2 linked regions of the Homo sapiens genome follow. The protein of the gene in region 1 interacts with the protein of each later gene in a pairwise test. Each region holds a gene or a part of one and is shown in the gene's direction. Other genes may lie near its edges.

Region 1 (7,666 bases):
ACTACAACCACCATATTTCCACATGGCCTTAAAAACAGATTAAACAGAAATTTTTTTCTGAAAACTTTTCTTTCAAAGCAGTATTTACAGTATCATCCAGCAGAAGAACCTGTACTTTATAACTTACAAATTTTACCACTACAAAATTCATACAGTATCATAAGGCCAAAAAAGGAACTAAAAACTTAATGCATTTTAGAATAATTAGGGACACTGTGCCCTCTCCTAAGCATATATACCCACCATTTTTGTCCTTTAGTAGTTTATTGATGATGTTACTAAGGTCGGCAATTTCAGAGGCAGCAGGGATTGAGAAGGGAACATCATCTACGGCATATCTATAAAAAGGAAATGATATGTCAAGATCAAGTCTACAGATATTTGAACAAACATGCTTTTACGAATTCAACATACATTTATTGGGTAAATAAATGCCAGACATCCAGACATTTTGCTACATGTTGTAAACAAAAATGAATTAAAACATGGTCTCTGTTCTAAGATGAGGTTGAAGTTTAGTAATCAAATAGAATGAAGTTATATAAGAACAATGCCATTAGGTGACATGTATAAAAAGAACAAAGACACCATAGGTCATTTTAACCACAGAAAAGGAGGGCAGGGGAGCAGGGCCAGAAACGATCCACAGAAAAGATAACTGTTAAGCAACATTTAGAAAAGTGATTAGCCAGGCGTGGTGGCATGTGCCCGTAGTCCCAGCTACTTGGGAGGCTGAGGTGGGAGGACTGCCTGAGCCCAGGAGGTCGAGGCTGCAGTGAGCTGAGATTATACCACTGCACTGCACTCCAGCCTGGGTGACACAGCAAGACCCTGTCTCAAAAGAGAAGTGAGTTTTTGCCAGGTGAGGGAAGGGTAGGCTGGAAGAAGCAGTGTGGACGAAACCAGAGAGAACATCAAAACAATAGCTAGGAGTTGTTAAACTGCCCAGCCACTTCCAGAAAATCTGACTTTGCTCCAAAGTGACCAAAGGCTAAAGAGATACACATGGAGTGCTTTATATATCATGTGAAATCATTTTTACTTCTTTTTTGTGGGTAATGAAGAACTATCACAGCAGTGCAAATTAGAAGTATCATCAGATTTTATTTAGTTAGATCTTTCTGGCTGCACAATGGGCACTGAAATAGAGGAACACATGACAGGAGGCAGATTAGGAGACTCTTATAAGAGAGACTGTGAGAAAATATTTGCAAATCATGTATCTAATAAGGAACTTGTATCTAGACTATATTAAGAACACTTACAACTCAATAATAAAAAGACAACACAAATTTTAAAATGGCCCAATAGGGACATGCAAATGCTCATCATTAGTCATCCAGGTAATGTTAATCAAACACAATGAAATATAATTTCACATCCACTAGGGTGCTATAAGTAAAAAGACAGCTAATAACAAGTGTCAGTGAAAATATGGAGCAATTGGAACCCTGATTATTGCTGGCAGTAACGTAAAATGGTGCAGTTGCTTTGGAAAACAGTCTGGCAGTTCCTCAAAAACTCAAACATGGAATTACATCTGACCCAAAAACTCCACTCCTAAGCATATATGCAAGAGAAACGAAAACATACATCCACACGAAAACTTGTACGAGTGTTCACATAACAACTATTCATAATAGCTAAAAGGTATAAACAACCTAAATGCCCACCAGCTGATGAATGGAAAAATATGGTACCTCCATTCAATGGCCTATTATTTGGCCACAAAAAGGAATGAAGTGCTAATATATACTATGATATAATGAAACCATTTTTTAAAAATCATAGTAAGTGAAAGAAGCCAGTCACAAAAGATCACATTATATAATTCCATTTATTCAAAACGTCCAGAAGAGAGAAAGTTACAGAGCTAGAAAGTAGATCAGTGGTTGCCTAGGGCTGGGGGTATTATTTAACAAACAGCTCAAGGATGATGAAAAATGTTCTAAAATTGACTGTGGTGATGGTTGCACAACTTTGCAAATATGATGCTGATGATCCTCAAACCACACTTTGAGCAATAAGGCTATAGCTATATATTTATGTATATAATTCACATATATGTATATTCTTGTGTGTGTGTGTGACAATTATATTAGCCCCCCGCCTCCATTTTACTGACCATAATATTAAGCAAAAAGAAAAAGCAAGAATTTTATTATTTATTTATTTATTTATTTATTTATTTGAGATAGAGTCTCACTATGTTCCCCAGGCTGGAGTGCAGTTGCATTGATCCTGGCTCACTGCAACCTCTGCCTCTCAGGCTCAAGAGATCCTCCCACCTCAGCCTCCCAAGTAGCTGGGACCACAGGTGGGCACCACCATGCCTGGCAAATTTTTTGTATTTTTGGTAGAGACGGGGTTTCATCATGTTGCTCAGGCTGGTCTCAAACTCCTGAGATAAGCGATTTGCGTTCCTCAGCCTCCCAGACTGTTGGGATTACAGACATGAGCCACAGCACTCGGCAAAGAATTTTAATTTCTACATTTTTTTACCTTTTGGAGGGCCTAAATTCACACACACACATATGACATGTATCCATTCATTTCAGGGGTTAAAACACAGTGGCCTATTATCTCTTACAACTTCATGTGAATCAACAATTATCTCAAGGCTGGACGCAGTGGGTCATGCCTGTAATTCCAGGACTTTGGGAGACCGAGGTGGGCGGATCACTTGAGGCCAGGAGTTCGAGACCAGCATGGCCACCAAGACAAATTCCTGTCTCTACTAAAAATACAAAAATTAGCCAGGCTTGGTGGCACATGCCTGTAATTCCAGCTACTCTGGAGGCTGAGGCGGGAAGATTGTTTGAACCCGGGAGACAGAGGTTACAGTGAGCCAAGATCCCACCACTGCAGTCCAGCCTGGGCAACAGAGTGAGACTCTGTCTCCAAAAAAACCAAACCAAACAAACAAAAAAAAGCCCCACATATTTCAAAAAATTTTATTTTAAGAAAAACAAAAAAACCTACTTTCAATTAAAAAACACAGTGGTTATGTTAATGCATCACCACATTCCTAGAGAAGTATTAAGGCAATGTATGTAAGTAAGTACATATACTCAGGTGCATTGATAATACGATTTATGTATACTTTCAGCAACAACACAAGGGGAGAGAAGATGATTTACTAGCTCTCCTCATAAAGCTACAAACAAAACCACAGATGTAACTCAGGTGGGAGTTTCCTAGTTTATGGCTAACTTTAGCTTATTAACACGACAAATATTATCATTTTCACTGAAAAATTTGACATTTTTTGTTGACTCAGCCAATCCAAGAAGCTTAATTAATATATAGTCCCTGCCCTCAAGAGACTTCCAATATAGTTGGAAGAGACCAGGCAAACACAAAGAAAGCTAACAATGCAATATATACCACAAGGCAGCATATAATTAGTTTTCGAATGAGTGCTAACAGACCTTGAGACCACTGGTTAAAATGTTTATATATCTATATAGATATACATAAATGGTAAATATGTTTTTTCATTTTCAAAAACTTTTTTTCCGTTTTCAAAAACTGTGAACCACCACTAGCAGACACCCTATAACAAGGCCCACTGTTCATTTTTAAATTACACATATAAAATGTTTCATTCAGAAAGCAAACCTGAAGCCCTTCAGCCTCCTCCACACTCACAATTCAAATTATATAGAACCTACGAAGCTGGTTAGAAAGCAGGTAATCTCAGAAAAAAGGGTGGGGGTGACAGCAGAAACAACCAGGGATCCACAAGGTCATACCAAAGGGGTGGTCGGAAAGGAACCTGGGGAAGGGAGAGAAGGCTGGAACGCTTACTTACTTCTTGTTATCAGTGTAGAAGCGTGTTTGGAGCTGAGCCATGGCGAGGAGTACACACGACTTGCCCACGGAAACGTACGGGTTAGCAGACCCACAACACGAAGCTCCTGCCTTTTAAGACTACAAAGAGGCAGCTCAAAATTAGACTGCACAGGTAAGCGAGGAACTGCAGTCTAAGCCTGGACTCTGCCTTCTGCCCTCCGGTCTCCTCTGCAGAAAGCACGAGGTTGCCCTTCTACAGACGCCCAGACCACAAACATCGACTACCTACTCCTAGATTTAGGAGTCATCGATTAGAAAAGGATAGTCGTAAAGGTAGCATGTCCCTTTAATCATTGTTAGAATTCTTCCCATACGTGTGGGCCCGTAATCGATTAGGAAAAAGATCCCACTCAAATCCGCTTTATTAATAAAAAATTTTTTTTCAAGAGGCTGTCCTGAGCCTGGATAGTTCAAACACAGCTCCTAGTTACTACAAGTCTCAGAAAGCATCGCTTCTCAAACGCTGTGACCACCGGGAATTGTAGTCTTTTTTTGCCACGCTGCCCTCAGAGTATCTTATTTGCATTAAATCCTCTAGACTCCAGCCAGATATCAAATTTCCTCTGCCTTCAGCTTTGCTTGACTAACGCCTTGCCAGTTTTTTTTTCTCATACATATTCCCAACCAGAGGCTCACTCGGCAGAGGTTTTTCCTAAATCTCGCCTCTAACTGCGGCTTTTAGAGAGAGGCGAGAGGCGGAAATACAAAGAAAAGAACGGATGAGAGAGGAAACGGTCGACGGTGGCCGATAGTGGTCCTACTGTCGTGGGACTGCTCTGCGCGCTCCCGGTGGGGCGCGCCTGCGCATTATGCTGGTCTCCATGGCGGGGCCTCGGAGCCAAGACGAGGTTGAGTAGACTCGTTTTGAATTTTCTCCCCTCTGCTCCGGCGGACTTCCCATGTCGCCTTGTGGGGCTATCGGCGGCGGCAGGACTGGGGGAGTCAGAGGTCTGGCAGCGCTGTCTGCGCAGACCTACCGGACGCTACCTCCCAACCCCCCGTCTTCCTCCTGCCTCCTCCTCCTCCCGTCACCTCCTGACCCGCCGGAGCTCCGAGCAACTGCCGGCCTCCGCCCCCAGCCGCAGCCGGTCACTGGCGGCGCCTTCCGCGCCAAGCTTGGGGGCCTTTTCGGGGTCCCACATGGCACGGCTTCCGACCCCCGGCCCGGGACGGGGCTCGCAGGCCCCAGAGGGGCAGGCTGGAGAAGGAGGAGGTTAGGTGTCTTCAGGAGGGTTGCTGAGCCCAAGGACGCGCCATCGCCGCGGAGAAGGAGCCGGACCCCTTGGGCGGAGCGCCCAATGTGTGGTCCCTCACGCCGTCCCGCACCTTGCTTTTTAGGGTTCTTTTTCCGCTTTCTGAGCCCTTTTATACCTTACGTTTAGAAGGGGAAAATCATCCTCCCACACCTTCTCCCCGACTTTTTGCCTTTTTTGTCTTGAAGTTACCCAAAGGCCTGTGTATTGTTCTCAATGGTCCCAAGAATTACTCTAATATAGTTGTTTTTCTGAGGGAGGATGGATGGAGATAACTATCCTGATCCCAATGTCACTTTTTAAGGCATTCGCTTCAAGAGACAAGCAGTTTAGAATCAGGCAGAACTGGATTGCAAAATTTATGGGCAGACCGGTATGTGTGCAGGTGAAGACAAAGCTTTCCTTTTTTACGTTGTTTAAAGATGTCCTACTGTAAGGTAGACGCCTAATGTTTAAATGAACGCCTAATATTTAAATAGAGAATGAGAAGAGATTTAAACAATTGGAAGAAAAAATAATTTTTATTAGAGAGCAATGACAATAAAAGTAGGACTCTTTTCAGTTTACTCACCTTTGTAGCTCCGAATCCGGGCCCTGGAACCAGAATTCCTGGGTTCAAATCCTGCCTCTGCTACTTGATTAACCTTTTTGTGCCACACTTTTATCAACTATAAGAATTAACTGCGGCATCGGAAGCACTCAGTATATGTTAATTATTATCATCAAATAGTTACTAATTCCAGTTTAACTAGAAGCTTTGCCAGCGTGAATAGATAAGGGAGAATAGCCACATTGAGTGGAGGAATAAAATTAGAAAACCTCTGTGCTGAAGTCCCAGGAGATCACTTATTAGGCTTGAGCTTGCTAATGGAAGTGGTGATCGTTTAACCATGTGGTTATTGTAGTGGTGAGGATTTACACATTAAATAAGTCTTGGGCATCTGAAGCTTGAAACACTTTCTTAATGAAATCTTGCCGTTGAATCTGTACTTACTGGTAATATGTCATTGGTTAAAATATATTTATAAAATGTATAATTGACCAGCAGGTTAATACATTTTTATCATTAATTTGAAATTTATCAAAATGAGAATATACAGTACCTGACAGTAGAGTTTGATCTTAATTTGATTTGAAAATTATGATCAGGAAAATAACCTGAATATATGCTTAATAATATAAGACTTTCAGTTTGCAAAACAGAAATCCTGACTTGACTAAAATACACTTTTCATTTGACGGAGACCTTTAGTTAAGGAAAGATTAGTTTTAGCATTCAACATAACTAAATACCCAGCATTATGTTTTACGGTTTTTTTCAACAATGATTTATGTGTCGTGTTTGGTGTTGCCTCCAAACAGTACCTAGGATAGCTGATGCTTTTACTTTGAGTCTTTTTCTTTAGTTGGAACATTAATTGCAAGCTTTTGGTTGGTAATCATTTTTTATGGGATGTATTTACTATATGGTCCTCATGGAGACACATTGTTATCTGGAGAACCACAGTTTGGAAAATACATTTCTCTTTATTATAAAGTTTTTTGTTTTATATATATAATGCCACAGTGTGATAGGATACAAAGACTATGCATTAGGGCTTTGGAGTCTTAATTGTTCTTTGTGTTTTTCTTTTTTTCCAATTTGATTATGGATCCAAGCCTAATGCACTCTGTGATCTTAAGCAAGTTTCTTGACAGTTCCAGTTTTCTTATCTACAAACAGAGACAAGAAGATCTACCTCAGAGTCATTGTAAGGATTAAATAAATTTGTAAAGCTCTCAAAGAGCAGCCTAATCCCAGCATTTTGGGTGGCTGAGGCGGGTGGAGCACCTGAGGTCAGGAGTTTGAGACCAGCCTGGCCAACATGGTGAAACCCCGTCTCTGCTAAAAATACAAAAATTGGCCAGGCATGGTGGGGGGTGCCTATAATCCGAGCTACTGGGGAGGCTGAGGCAGGAGAATTGCTTGAACCTGGAAGGTGGAGTTTGCAGTAAGCCAAGATCACGCCACTTCACTCCAGCCTGGGCAAAAAGAGTGAAACTCCATCTCAAAAAAAAAAAACAAACAAAAAATCAGAGCAAAAAGGTAAAAAGTTTGTGCAGAGTAAAACATGGGTAGAAATGGATTGCAGGGAAGCTTATAGTGAGAATAAACCATAAATAAAATTGACATTGTGAACACCAGCCTTAGATTTTTTTTCCCTGAAAATTAAAAAGTGCTTTTTTTTATTTTTTTATTTTTTGAGTTGGAGGGTTTTTTGGTGGTGGTGGTGGTGTTTGTTGTTTTGTTTTTGGTTTTTTGTTTTTTTTCAGAGTCTCCCTCTGTCGCGAGGCTGGAGTGCAGTGGCGCTATCTTAGCTCACTGCAACCTCCGCCTTCCAGGTTGAAGCGATTCTCCTGCCTCAGCTTCCCGAGTAGCTGGGACTACAGGTGCCTGCCACCATGCCCGGCTAATTTTTTGTATTTTAGTAGAGAAGGGGTTTCACCATGTTGGCCGGGATGGTCTCGATCCCCTGACCTTGTGATCTTCCCACCTCGGCCTTCAAAAGTGCTGGGAT
Region 2 (7,035 bases), on another chromosome or scaffold:
AGCTGAGACTACAGGCATGTGTCACCATGCCTGGCTAATTTTTGTATTTTTTGTAGAAACAAGGTTTCACCATGTTGCCCAGGCTGGTCTTGAACTCCTGGGCTCAAGCAATCCACCACCCACCTTGGCCTCCCAAAGTGCTAGGATAACAGGCATGAGCCACCGGGCCCAGCCGAGAAACATTTAAAAGTAGACTAAAAAGTCTCAGGCTGGGGCTATTAATGCTACCCCAAAAGATGTGATATATATGTCTAGCTTTTTATTTTCAGGAAAAGTTTCAAAACATTTACTGAAATAATAAGTGGTAAAGTTGTAAGCTCTGTTTGGAGAACTTTTAATAAGTTTAACATTTTATGTAACCTTCTAACCATTGTTGATGTTGGTGAAGTATTCCCCTCATTCGTAAATATAAACCATATGATGGGTGCCTTGTGATGCCCCAGACTTAAAGGTGTGAAATAAAAATGAACTCAAGTCTTTGCCTGAGGTGCCTGGTACCTAGTTCTCTAGTTTTGTCAATATCTGACTAAACACTCTGGTTTCTGATTGACTTTTGCCCCTGGACTTGACCTTTCTGGCACCCACATCCACACCCTGAAGAGCATGTATTGTCTGTTGTGTGGGGATACCTGTTACTGGCCAATTTGCCACAGCTTCTCAGATATCTGACAGAGGCTGATGCCTGGCCTACTCTCCTGTTATGGCTGCCTAGCCTCTGCCCAGTCCCCTTACATTAGGATGGAGCTGAGGAGGAATGGAATAGAATAACAAGATGAGTTGCTGCAAAAATACTTCAGCCTCTGAAAGTCTGTCTTTCCAAGTTGTTAGGAACTGAAAGTGTCTATTGATCGGGGAGCTGGCTGGGCTAGTGGTATAAGCTAATGATAAGACCAGGTTGGGCTGGGCATGGTGGCTCATGCCTATAATCCCTGCACTTTGGGAGGCCGAGGCAGGTGGATCACTTGAGGTCAGGAGTTCAAGACCAGCCTGACCAACATGGTGAAACCCCATCTCTACTAAAAAAAAATACAAAATTAGCCGAGCAGGGTGGCGCACACCTATAATCCCAGCTACTTGGGAGGCTGAGGCAGGGGAATTGCTTGAACCTGGGAGGCAGAGGTTGCAGTGAACCGAGATCACACCACAGGACTCCGGCCTGGGCAACAAGAGAGAAACTCCATCTCCAAAAAAAAAAAAAAAGACCAGGTGAATGGGGAATACAGTGCCTGCTAGAAGGGTGCAGTTGAAGGAATAAGTTAAGAATATGTGCCAGATTTCAAAAGCTGGAGCCAAATGGGGATGATGTGTTGCTGGAAGTCCTAGCCTAACAGAGTCTTTCAGGAAGGGCAGAGCCAAAGGTCTCAGTCAACATCAGGGTCCATTCATGTGGGAGAATGGCTAATCACAGCTTGCTAATTTCAACTACCATCTGTTATGACTCCTCAAAGCACTAAGTATGCAGTAGTTGACATATGAATGGTGTTAGGGTTGGGGGAGGGGGCCAGCCTCCTGATTTCTAATTTCTAGCTGCATATTACTACAGGAAGGGGAGTAAGACCACCACATCAGGTACCAGAATTTCACTACTGTCAACACTTTGTGTTTGAAAGAAAGCCATAGATCCCTGTGACCACTGGATGCTGAGTGACCTCACAGACAACATCAGCAAAGCAGGATTGTGTACAAACACACATTTTGTAAATATTTTGATATTTGACATTTCAAAAAAAGCATCAAAGGAGACAGCCTGGGAAAAGTTAGACTTTGTTGAGCTTTCTCAACCTTAATTTTGTATTTTGTTATTTTTTTCTATTTTAATTTCACATGGGAGTAATAATTCAAATTTGAGGCACTATAGTCTTTTCAGAGCTTAGGTCATCTAAAGATCTGAGCCTGGCCTTGTTGAGCCATGATGAGCAGATGTGGACTGAGCACACAGTCTCACACAGGCAGCTCTTACACTAGTTGAGTATTTTAATCCCTGAGGTTTTAGAATTGTCATAGCACAGGTGTGCAAGCTCCTTTCTCCCCATGGGTCAGCATCATGAATGTTCTGTCACTCTCCTTAGAGAGTTTTGCAGAAATACCACATCATATTCACCAAAACTAAGAATTCATAGTAATAGGGCTTTATAATTTCTCACACTGAAATCCCCTAATTTCTTGTCAAGAACCAAGTTGGAAAATACCACACTTCAGGGTTTTGTTTTTAACTCAAGAAGCTTCTGGTTTTCATCAGAACTTTAAAGCTCCCTCCTACCTCCAAAATAGTATTGTTAGAAAATGTAATGCTGAGACTCTGTCAGAATAAGTAGGTGATATATGCAAAATGATATGGGCAACTTAGAAAAGTGCATGTCAAGGTAAACTGCTGATAAAGGCCGGGAGTGGTGGCTCACACCGGAAATCCCAGCACTTTGGGAGGCTGAGGTGCGCAGATTGCTTGAGGCCAGGAGTTCAAGACCAGCCCAGCCAAAATCGTGAAGCCCTGCCTCTACTAAAAATACAAAAATTAGCTGGGCTTGGTGGCACATGCCTGTAATCCCAGCTTCTTGGGAGGCTGAGGTATGAGAATTGGTTGAACCCAGGAGGCGGAGGTTGTGGTGAGCCACGACTGGGCCACTGTACTCCAGCCTAGGCAACAGAGGAAAAAAAAAAAAAAGTGTTGATAAAAAATAATCATCATAATTATGGTCAGTATTGGTGCTTTGACTTTTGATATTGTTATTATCATTATTTTAAAGATTTTTTTGTCTTTCTAAATTGACTTTCATCTGGGAGCCTTAGCATCACTTCTAACTAGCCAAAGCATGTTTGATTGTAGGCCAGACTCCCCATGGAGAGGCTTCTGATCTTATTCACAGGGACATTTAACCTGGGGTTCACTGAAACCTTTGAGGAATGATGGATGAGTCATCTCTCTGCCAAAAGAAGATGATTCCTGGCATTCTATGGGGCTCCCAGTGCATTGGGATAAGGAGGCTTGGAAACTCCTCCACGGAGGCATTGACCTTGGGTAGTGCCTTCCAAGCCAGAGTGGAGAGAGTGGACCCCTCATCTTTGTCCAAAAGAGCATTAGTATAACCCCTCACCCCAACCCCACCCCATTCTCTCCTTTTTAAAAAGAGAGAAGAATATATACAAGAAAAAAATTGGAAAAAATACATCAAAATGTTAAAAATTGTTGAGATGGTATTTTATGTGGTGTTTTGCCCCCATTTAACATTATGTTGTAAACATTTTACCAAATCACTAGATGGTCTTTGAAAACATGATTTTTAATGGCTCTATTTCCATTGCACTGATACATTTTAATGTATCAGTTTTTTGTTGTTGGACATTTTGATTCACTTTAGTGTTCTACTATTTTTAAAGTTTCTAATGCATATTGGTGAATTGGCCCCTAGAAAGGTACGAATGTCTATTTCAAAACCTTGGTCTTTTTTAGTTTCTCACATTAAAATGCATGCTGCTAGGCCCCAGTGGTATTGGAAGCTCTGAGGAGGAGCCTGGGGATATGCATTTTAACCTGCCCTCCCAATTCTTCTGCATTAATGCCTGAGAACTATTGACATGCTGCATTCAGTTCAACAAATATTCAGTTGGCAAACATTTATTAGACAAAAAAAATTAGGAAACTCTGAGCTAGTATGTCTATGCCAGAATTTAACTTAAAGTCTTTTTTTGGCTTCTGATTTTTAGATTTTCCTTTAACTGTAATATGATGTAGTAAAAAGATTATTAGCTAGGGAATCAAGAAACCATATTGTACACATGAAATCACTGAGGCCCATAATGGTTCATTTACTTCCTGGTGGTCACTCAGAGATTTAATGGCAAAGGTTGAACTAGACAAAGGGCCCAGAGTCACCCAACCTTTAGGTAAGAGACAAAAGGCGCCAATGAGAAGATTCACTCCTGAGGCAACGCCCTGCCTCAGCCAAGGAGCTCTTACCTGCCCTCAGATAGGCATGCCCGTACTTCAAGACACTCTTGGGCAGCCTAGACCTAGCAAGGGGCCCACGTGCCCATCTTGGTCACCTAATGGGGCCAGACTGTGGTGTGCCCTGATCCCTGAGGTGGTAGCACTGAAGAAGCTGGACCCAGGAGGACAGAGGGCAGCCGTGCAGGCAGCATCCATGTGATCAGCATCACAAGAGCAGAGTAGGAGGTGGGATCTGGGGTCAGAAACCAAGACAGCGGAGCAGGGTCAGGGCAAGTGCCAGACTAAAATATGTGGGCAAATTTGAGGTCAAGGCAGGGATGAGTTGAAAGGAAGACAAGCAAGAGCTAGAGGGGAACTGCTGAGGATTTGGCCTCAAGGATGGAGTCCCACTGTGTGACCTCACAGTCAGGGGAGGTACCTGCCCCAAGCCGTGCCTGCCTTTTTAAATCTGAAAGGTGCTGTGTGCTGGGCTGCCTTCTGACAGCAGGAGAGTAGGAGCACAGCCTGAGAGGCGGCAGGCCAGAGCAGGAGGAACCTGAAAATGGAAATTTAGGAAACAATGGAAAAAACAATTATAGCAACAAAAAACCATTTTCTTTAAACTCTCACCATCCTCTAAGAGGAAGTCTGACTATTCATCCTGCCTGCATAACCCTGCTGAAACCCATCAACCCACACCCACTGATCACCTGACAGTGTCTGACTGCCCGGCTTCCTCTCATCCCACCACCTCAATTTCCAGAGCCCACCAAGGCATCACTTGACTTTCAAGTTCTGCCTGGACAGACTGCTCAGCTCCCTACCCGCCCCAGTTCACGTTCAGGTTCTTGAAATCAACTTTAGTTTCCTCCATGCCTACATCTATGCTGATCCCCTGCAAAGGCACCTGGTGACACACAAGAGCCAGAACCCAAAGGAGCTCCTCCACAGGATCCTCCCAGGGCTTAGCCACCAGGGAATTTTGTTGATGATCCCCAAGCTTCACTGCCCCATGCAAGTCTCCATTATCTCAAGGTTATCCCTGTTCAGGATCACTACTCTCCTGATTCTTGGCCTCCTAGTCCAAACTCATGGCTCCAGGGTCATGATGAGTAAGAGTTCTGGAAAAGTCTACAACCTCCCTTGAACCAGAGGTACCTTGAATCAGATGGAGGGTGACTTTCCAAGAATGCCTGGGCCGGTTCAAGTCTTCACTATAATGTTTGCCTTATGTAAAACCCATCACCTTGTTGTCCTGCACAACTTTCTTGAGTGAAGCACCTCTGATACTCAGATGACATTCTAATTGCTCACGAGACCTGGACCCCTGGGCCAGGAAAGCCCATGTGGTGGTGACAGCAGTGCTTCCAAATCTCACCCACAGGAGACAAAAATAGGAGTTCCATGGCATCCAGACAAGGTGTCCACATGCTGCTGGAGAGTCTTGGGTGGTCACAGAGTACAAAGTTCAAGGGCAAAGATTGTTCAGTGGGTCCCAAGATTTGACAAGTGCTACTGGTGGTCCCACCCTTGCCTCTCTACATTGATTCCATGTCCCACTTCCTCTCACACTATGCTGATAACGATCTAACCTGAGAAATTAAAAGTATTCACACAGCCTCTGGCCAAAGCTACAGGAAGACCCTGGCCCAGGCAAACTCTGTTCCTGCCCCACAGCTGTCATTTCACCTGCCCTACCCCATGGGAGCATGTACCACTGGTATCAAGTCTTCCTGCTGGGCCAAGAGGCACTGCCTCAAAGAGGCCCAGCATCCCCAGATAGCAATGTCCCACCACTGCAGTCAGGAGCAACTGGGCAAACCCAAAGACTCAGCCCCCCCATCCAGAAAGACCATCCCATTTTCCATCGCCTAAGTGCCAGACAGCCCAAACTGCTGTGTAGACAGCTACCAGGAAAACTGGAGCAATGAGAGACATCTGAGGTCACCCCAGCTAAGCTCAGAAGGCCACAGAGCTTAACTGCCTTCTTGACTGTGGCCCATCAAAAGGAGCCCGACACATCTAGTAGATGGCTTAAATAAAAAATACTGAGGTTACCAAATGCTGGCAAACATGTGGGGACACTGGATCTCTCCTACATTGCCTGTAGGAATGTAAAATGGTACAGCCACTCTAGGAAACTGTTTGGCAGTTTCTTATAAAAGTTAAACATATACTTACCACGTGATCCAGCAATCCTACTCATGGGTATTTACACAAGAGAAATGAAAACTTATGTTCACGCAATAAACTTTACATGAACATTTATAGCAGCTTTATTTGTAATACCTAAAAACTGGAAAATAGCCAAATGTTTTTCAGCAAGTTAGTGGGTAACACACTGGTACATCCACACCTTGAAATACTATTCAGCAATAAAAAGGCATGTGCTCTTTACATACAATTCAAATGGATCACAAGGGCATTATGCTGAAAGCCAATCTCAAAGAGTTATATGCTACATGATTCCATTTAGAGAACGTTCTTGGACTGACAAAATCACAGTGATAGGCCATGCACGGTGGCTCATGCTTGTAATCCCAGCACTTTGGGAGGCTGAGGCAGGAGTGCCCAGGAGTTCGAGACCAGCCAGGGTAACACAGGGAGACCCGCATCTCTACAAAAATTTACAAAACTAGCGGGATATGTGGGCGTGCACCTGTGGTCTCAGCTACTTGAGAGGCTGAGATGGGAAGACTGCTTGAGCCCAGGAGTTTGAGGCTGCAGTAAGCCATGATTTTGCCATTGCACCCCCAGCCTGGGTGACAGAGCGAGACCCTGTCTCAACAAGCAAAAAAAAAAAAAAATTACAGTGATAGAGAACAGATCAGTGGTTGTCAGGATGGGTGTGATTATCAGAGGAGGAGCACAGGGAACTGTGGTGGTGACTATTCTCTATTCTGATGGTGATGGTCATCACTCCAGCCTGCACATGTGATACGTTGCATAGAACTGTAGACATACAGGTACACACACACACACACAGAGTGCATGTAAAAACTGGTAAAATCACATAAGACTGTATCTGCGTTTATTTGAACTATACCAGCATCTGTTTCTTGGTTTAGCCCAAGTACTACAGCGATGTAAGACAACACTGGGGGAAGGTG

Evidence for each region. Proteins that work in one complex are often made in the same cells at the same time.
Region 2: the proteins of CARF (region 1) and ZBTB38 interact in binary tests that used the Homo sapiens proteins (3 or more experiments, as listed by UniProt).

Annotation. Positions count from the first base shown.
Region 1 is NC_000002.12:202,907,622-202,915,287, forward strand, and holds the start of CARF (calcium-responsive transcription factor), read left to right. Parts: upstream 1-4,653; 5' UTR 4,654-5,481; exon of another isoform or gene 5,482-5,493; intron 5,494-7,666. Other genes in the region: ribosome biogenesis protein WDR12, read right to left, coding at 244-338, 3,815-3,855. UniProt on the Homo sapiens protein: Acts as a transcriptional activator that mediates the calcium- and neuron-selective induction of BDNF exon III transcription. Binds to the consensus calcium-response element CaRE1 5'-CTATTTCGAG-3' sequence.
Region 2 is NC_000003.12:141,371,469-141,378,503, forward strand, and holds part of ZBTB38 (zinc finger and BTB domain-containing protein 38), read left to right. Parts: intron 1-7,035. UniProt on the Homo sapiens protein: Transcriptional regulator with bimodal DNA-binding specificity. Binds with a higher affinity to methylated CpG dinucleotides in the consensus sequence 5'-CGCG-3' but can also bind to E-box elements (5'-CACGTG-3').